Linked DNA regions of Homo sapiens. The protein of the gene in region 2 interacts with the protein of the main gene of each other region in a pairwise test. Each region holds a gene or a part of one and is shown on either strand. Other genes may lie near its edges. The genes, in order: FGF12 and DPPA2.

What was found.
Region 1: the proteins of DPPA2 (region 2) and FGF12 interact in a two-hybrid assay, tested with the Homo sapiens proteins (one large-scale study listed by BioGRID).

What each region holds. Positions count from the first base shown.
Region 1 is NC_000003.12:192,146,955-192,150,783, forward strand, and holds part of FGF12 (fibroblast growth factor 12), read right to left. Parts: intron 1-3,829. UniProt on the Homo sapiens protein: Involved in nervous system development and function. Involved in the positive regulation of voltage-gated sodium channel activity. Promotes neuronal excitability by elevating the voltage dependence of neuronal sodium channel SCN8A fast inactivation.
Region 2 is NC_000003.12:109,306,286-109,310,114, forward strand, and holds part of DPPA2 (developmental pluripotency-associated protein 2), read right to left. Parts: intron 3,046-3,829; coding exon 2,885-3,045; intron 2,795-2,884; coding exon 2,741-2,794; intron 2,009-2,740; coding exon 1,747-2,008; intron 1-1,746. UniProt on the Homo sapiens protein: Binds to target gene promoters, including NKX2-5 and SYCE1, but not GATA4, and may be involved in the maintenance of the active epigenetic status of these genes.

The DNA.
Region 1 (3,829 bases), about 83 Mb from region 2:
AGTAATAAAATTAACGGTTTTGAAAACCTAGTTCATGTCCCAGTTAGAAAACGACAAGTAAAAGGTAGGTTTTCCAGTTCACTGATGAAAACTGCCCCCCTCCTCAATAAATCAAATAGGTATTTGAATTTCTATACTTCTGTTAACCAAAATAAAAAGATGTTCAGAGAAAGCAAACTAAAGTTATTCTAGAAACTGCATGCAAATACAAATACGGAGAGCAAAACCTTGGTCAAAGCAATAGATTAAATGTAATTTCTTGAGCATTAATTTTCATTGTTATTTACAGGACCTAGGATTCAGTAATATATCTAAGAAGCTGACAAATCAAGGGGAATAAGTCTCAATCAAATTTCTGAATTACAATATAATTTAAAGACCATAATCCAATTAGAAAGCAAAGAAAGAATAAAGTACCTCCCTTCAGTAATATAACTGCCTTACTACCATCCATAGTTGCATTAACGCTTAATGACTGCTATTCTGAATGTACATGGTAAATAATGAAACAAAATTAAGGAAGGAAACAAGGCGTAAGTGTTCTCTAAAGTGCATTATATGTGCAAAACGTAAACGAAAATCACCATGATGTATATAGCAGCCTCAATATCATTTCAGAGTATTCAAAGCAATTTTAAATTGATTAACTAAATTTTACAATTATAACCCAGTGAATATAGTAGGTGAGAAATTATCACCCCCATTTTTTTTAAATATAAAAGAAATTAAGCCACTTCCATAAAGTCAGAGAGTGAGTAGTGGCAGGGCCAGGATGAATATTTAGGGTTTCAAGGTCCTAGTTAAGAGTTTTGAATAAAATCAGAAATACCATAATTTATCCAACAAACAATGTAAAATGACTGACATATCAGTGTTTGAATTCTTATGTCTGTATGTTAATCAAGATTTAAGTTGGCCTTAACTTCACTAAATATTCCTAAAGTCATTCAGAAATGGTAATAAAAGAAAACATATGGCTGTTATAAACAAAATCAAAAAAGAAAGTAACAAGAGTTGGTGAGTATGTGGAGAAATTGAAACCCTATTCATTTCTACTTAAATGTAAAATGGCTCAGCCACCGTGGAAAATGAAATGGTGATTCCTCAAAAAATTAAATACGGATGTACCATATGATCCAGCAATTCCAACTGTAGGTGTACACTCAAAATAAATGAAAGCAGGGACCCCAGCATCTATCTGTACATCCATGTCCATAGAAGGATTATTCACTGTAGCCAAAAGATGGAAGCACCAAAATGTCCATTGACAAATGAATGGGTAAATATAATGTGGCCTATACATATAATGAAATATTATTCAGCCTAAAAAACAAAATTCTGACACATACTACAACATGAATGAACCTTGAAGAAATTCTGCTAGGTGAAATAAGCCAGTTACAAGGAGCCAAATATTGATTCCACTTATGTGAGATACCCAGAGTAGTCAAGTTCACAGAGGCAAAAAATAGAACTGTACTTGCCAGGGGCTGGGGAAGAATGGGGATTTCTTATTTAATGAGTACAGAGTTTCAGTTGGGGGAGATGAAAAAGTTCTGGAGTTGGATGATGGTGATGTTTGCACAACAATGTCAATGTACTTAACGGCAATGAAACATATACTTAAAAATGATTAAAATGGTAAATTTTGTATTATCATATTTTACCACAATTAAAAAGCAAACAAACAAACAACTTGTCCTGAATTGTCCTGAGTATAAGGTATAAGAAGTGACTATTAAAGCCAGAGGTGTTCCATTTGCATAGGAAGAGCCAGCAATTCCCCAATAATAAAAAACATTAGTTTTAGAACTGTATTAAGGAAGAGGGAGTTGAGATATAACTGAGGAGGTACAGGGCGAGGAAAAGGATAGAGAAATCTGATGAAAATATTCTAGGACTGTGCTGCCTAGTATAGCATCCATTTAGCCATATGTGGCCACTGAGCACGTACAATGTAGCTAGTCCTAATTCAGATGAGACATAAGTGCAAAAATAAACACTACAGGACTGGGTAAAATAGGGAGGTGATGACGAATAAGAAGGATAAGGCTAATTTGTGTCAGAGCTTGCTGAATTCCAGGCCAGAAAATTTAAACCGTGAACATCATATATATCAGGCTCAATATGATAGCAAGTGAAGAGTTAATATACTTAGTTAATTAAGTGATATGATAGCAAATGAAGAGTTAACGTCCATCCGACATGAGTGTATAAAGAAAAATCTATTAATTCCTTTATGTAGAAAAATGTCTAGGTTTACGTGATATGGATACAACTAGTCAGTATAGTCAAGAAAAATCATTCAAACTGAATCTCACTGAGTGAACTCTGTAAGGAATGACTGGCAGCATTTGAACCTTTTTTTTATTATTATACTTTAAGTTTTAGGGTACATGTGCACATTGTGCAGGTTAGATACATATGTATACATGTGCCATGCTGGTGCACTGCACCCACTAACTCGTCATCTAGCATTAGGTATATCTCCCAATGCTATCCCTCCCCCCTCCCCCCACCCCACAACAGTCCCCAGAGTGTGATATTCCCCTTCCTGTGTCCATGTGATCTCATTGTTCAATTCCCACCTATGAGTGAGAATATGCGGTGTTTGGTTTTTTGTTCTTGCGATAGTTTACTGAGAATGATGATTTCCAATTTCATCCATGTCCCTACAAAGGACATGAACTCATCATTTTTTATGGCTGCATAGTATTCCATGGTGTATATGTGCCACATTTTCTTAATCCAGTCTATCATTGTTGGACATTTGGGTTGGTTCCAAGTCTTTGCTATTGTGAATAATGCCGCAATAAACATATGTCTGCATGTGTCTTTATAGCAGCATGATTTATAGTCATTTGGGTATATACCCAGTAATGGGATGGCTGGGTCAAATGGTATTTCCAGTTCTAGATCCCTGAGGAATCGCCACACTGACTTCCACAATGGTTGAACTAGTTTACAGTCCCACCAACAGTGTAAAAGTGTTCCTATTTCTCCACGTCCTCTCCAGCACCTGTTGTCTCCTGACTTTTTAATGATTGCCATTCTAACTGGTGTGAGATGGTATCTCATAGTGGTTTTGATTTGCATTTCTCTGATGGCCAGTGATGATGAGCATTTTTTCATGTGTTTTTTGGCTGCATAAATGTCTTCTTTTGAGAAGTGTCTGTTCATGTCCTTCGCCCACTTTTTGATGGGGTTGTTTGTTTTTTTCTTGTAAATTTGTTTGAGTTCATTGTAGATTCTGGATATTAGCCCTTTGTCAGATGACTAGGTTGCGAAAATTTTCTCCCATTTTGTAGGTTGCCTGTTCACTCTGATGGTAGTTTCTTTTGCTGTGCAGAAGCTCTTTAGTTTAATTAGATCCCATTTGTCAATTTTGGCTTTTGTTGCCATTGCTTTTGGTGTTTTGGACATGAAGTCCTTGCCCATGCCTATGTCCTGAATGGTAATGCCTAGGTTTTCTTCTAGGGTTTTTATGGTTTTAGGTCTAACGTTTAAATCTTTAATCCATCTTGAATTGATTTTTGTATAAGGTGTAAGGAAGGGATCCAGTTTCAGCTTCCTACATATGGCTATCCAGTTTTCCCAGCACCATTTATTAAATGGGGAATCCTTTCCCCATTGCTTGGTTTTCTCAGGTTTGTCAAAGATCAGATAGTTGTAGGTATGCGGCATTATTTCTGAGGGCTCTATTCTGTTCCATTGATCTATATCTCTGTTTTGGTACCAGTACCATGCTGTTTTGGTTACTGTAGCCTTGTAGTATAGTTTGAAGTCAGGTAGTGTGATGCCTCCAGCTTTGCTCTTTTGGCTTAGGATT
Region 2 (3,829 bases):
TTAGAAAGAGGTGTCCTCTTTGGGAAGGCAGTGCCCCCAGGCACACAGCTTTATGGCTGGACAATGCCTTTGCACAAATTATTAAAAGGTGCCCACTGTCCCCACATAAACGAATGTAGCTTGAAGAGCAGAGGATATGCCAATTTCAACTTCAAGTCTTCCTTCTGGCTGGTTTCCTTGTATGATGAATAATGTGTCCTACCATACTAGTTAGCTGGAATAAAATAGGATCTAGAATACTTCTGGAAATGGGAAAATGGGGGAGTAAAAAAAGGATTCAAGCCAAAAAGGAAGGTGACTTGAGATAGCAGACCCTGGAAATAAAAGCAATAGCAAGAAAAGAAGAGCAGGAGTTGGAGAAAAGTGGAGTTAAGTTATCCTCAAGATTTCTTAGAGGGCCCCAGGCGCGGTAGCTCACGCCTGTAATCCCAGCACTTTAGGAGGCCAAGGCAGGTGGATCACCTGAGGTTGGGAGTTCGAGACCAGCCTGACCAACATGGAGAAATCTCGCCTCTACTGAAAAAAAAAAAATACAAAATTAGCCAGGCATGGTGGCGCATGACTGTAATCCCAGCTACTCGGGAGGCTGAGGCAAGAAAATTGCTTGAACCTGTGACCTCAGGTGATTCACGTGCCTTGGCCTCTCAAAGTGCTGGGATTAAAAGCGTGAGCCACTGTGCCCGGCCAAGATTTTTTTTTTAAAGACAGAGTCTGGATCTGTCTGTCAGGCCAGAGTGCCATGGCACAATCTCAGCTCACTGCAACCTCTACCTTCTGGGCTCAAGCCACTCTCCCACCCCAGCCTCCTGAGTAGCTGGGACTACAGGCACACACCACCATGCCCGGCTTTTTTTCGTATTTTTTGTAGACAGGGTATTTCACCATGTTACCCAGGCTGGTCTCTAACTCAGGAGCTCTAGCAATCCTCCCACCTCGGCCTCCCAAAGTTATAGGCATACAGGCATGAGCCACCAAGCTCAGCCACTACTATTCTATGAAACATGTAAATCTTCATTTTATATAACAGGATACTTGGCCGGGAGCAGTGGCTCACACCTGTAATCCCAACACTTTGGGAGGCCGAGGTGGGTGGATGGTCTGAGGTCAGGGGTTCGAGACCAGCCTGGCCAACATAGTGAAACCCCCTCTCTACTAAAAATACAAAAAATTAGCTGGGCGTGGTGGTGGGTGCCTGTAATTCCAGCTACTCAGGAGGCTGAGGCAGGAGAATTGCTTGAAACTGGGAGGCAGAGGTTGCAGTGAGCCAAGATCGCGCCATTGCACTCCAGCCTGGGCAACAAGAGCGAAACTCCATCTCAAAAAAAAAAAAAAAAAAAAAAGAACAGGATACTAAGGCTTAAAGTAAGTAACTTGCCAATGTCACATATCCAGGAAATGGTAAAGCAAGAATTTGAACCAACACATTCCTCTTATTCACTATGTCATAAATGCCTTAAGGAAGAGAGAAAGAAAAGGGGAAGACCTCAGACTGTGGTCCAAGATTATCAGGTTATGCTTAGTGATGGAAAAGGGCCACTACTCAGTCACCTGATTTAGAGACCCATCCAGACACAACATGACTATCCATCAATATGACAGATAGAAGAAAGATGTCCCATGTGAATCCAATTTCTAATCTTCAGATATTTTAGCAAATGCCTTCCCTTTGACCACGTTTCAGTCTTGGACTAATAAAAGTTAACCTTGTCCTCTGGAGTGGGACTCACACTTTAAGGTTGATCTTACCAGAGGCTTGCATCAAAAAGGCCTCAACAGAAACAGGAATGGAACATGAATTCAAAGCCTTAGGCTGAACAGCTCTTGCAGCAATTCTTGCCCATGATGCCAACATGGCTCCCGGTGCTGAAGTTATCACTTCAACTGTATTGGTCTCTTCTGCTCTCTCATTCATCTCATAACTTCTCTGAAGCCTTGCTCTCTTGGTCACTGCCTTGCGTTTCCTCGAACATCGCTGTAATCTGGTCTCTTGTGACATTTCAGGCATATCCTGCAAATGAAATTCACGATGAGTATTCAGTAAACCGCTAGGGCTGTAAGGACTTTTGGGTCAATTTTATTATTCTTTTTTTTTTTGAGACGGAGTCTCGCTCTTGTTGCCCAGGCTGGAGTGCAATGGCACGATCTCGGCTCACCGCAACCTCCGCCTCCCAGGTTCAAGCTATTCTCCTGCCTCAGCCTCCCTAGTAGCTGGGATTATAGGCATGTGCCACCATGTCCGGCTAATTTTGCATTTTTAGTAAAGACGGGGTTTCTCCATGTTGGTCAGGCCGGTCTCGAACTCCTGACCTCAGGTAATCCACCCGCCTCGGCCTCCCAAAGTGCTGGGATTACAGGCATGAGCCACCACACCCGGCCAATTTTATTATTCTTTGTACTGACCTGAACATGTATGTCAATGTGGGAAGGGTTTCGGAATATTAGTTCCCATAAACTGTAAATTCTCCACTGGGAGAAATTTTGGGTTGTTGAAACTGTGCAGGGGGAGGAAAGGTTGCAACTGACATCCAGCTGGTAGAGGCTGGGGATGCTGCAAAACATACTACAATGTACAGGGCAGCCCCCAAAACAAACAAAAAATTATTTGTTCCGAAATATCAATAATGCCACAGTGAAGAAACCCTGCCTTAGAGGTACAACACATAGATATGGTGCGACGGTAGGGACCGGACGAATCATGATCAGAACCCACCTTCACACCATCAACACACTCATTACTCACTTGCCGTTGTTCAGGGTAAGCATGCCTATGAAGCCTCAGATAAACTTCGATTTTCTTAGGAAATGAAGAGAGAGATTAAGTTAAAAGTTGACAAAGACTCCCATAATTATTCCCAGCAGCAGATATTCACCCAAGTGTACTAACCTTGCCATTAGTACTCAAACCGAGTTGTTGACACCAGTCCCGCAAAGTGTCCCGACACACCTTATTAATGGGAGGCAAAATGGTCGGCAAGGGAAGGGCTGGTATTTTGCATCTAGCTTTTTGTGGAGCTGTAAATTGCTCATTTGTTTGAAGTAGATGACCTAAGACAAGAATGGAACCAAAGTAGTAATAATTTAAAGTTGGCAAGATTATTTTAAAATTTTACAAAGATCTAGGGTCGGGCACGGTGGCTCACGCCTGTAATCCCAGCACTTTGGGAGGCCGAGGTAGGCAGATCACGAGGTCAGGAGATCGAGACCATCCTGGCTAACATGGTGAAACCCCGTCTCTACTAAAAAAATACAAAAAACTTAGCCGGGCGTGCTGGCGGGCGCCTGTAGTCCCAGCTACTTGGGAGGCTGAGGCAGGAGAATGGCATGAACCCGGGAGGTAGGGTTTGCAGTGAGCCAAGATCATGCCACTGCACTCCAGCCTGGGCGACAGAACAAGACTCCGTCTCGTCTCAAAAAAAAAATTTTACAAAGATCTTTTCACATTTCTCACAACCCAATTTGCATATACACATATCAATTTTTATTTCTCATATTAAAAATGAGGTAACAAGGCCGGGCACGGTGGCTCACACCTATAATCCCAGAACTTTGGGAGGCTGAGGCAAATTCGCCCAAATTACTTGAGGTCAGGAGATCGAGACCAGCCCGGCCAACATGGTAAAACCCCGTCTCTACTAAAAATAGAAAAATTACCTGGGCATATGGCCAGGCATGGTGGCTCATGCCTGTAATCCCAGCACTTTGGGAGGCCGAGGTGGGTGGATCACCTGGGAGTTTGAGACCAGCCTGACCAATATGGAGGAACCCTGTCTCTACTAAAAAAAAAAATTCAAAATTAGCCAGGTGTGGTGGCACATGCCTGTAATCCCAG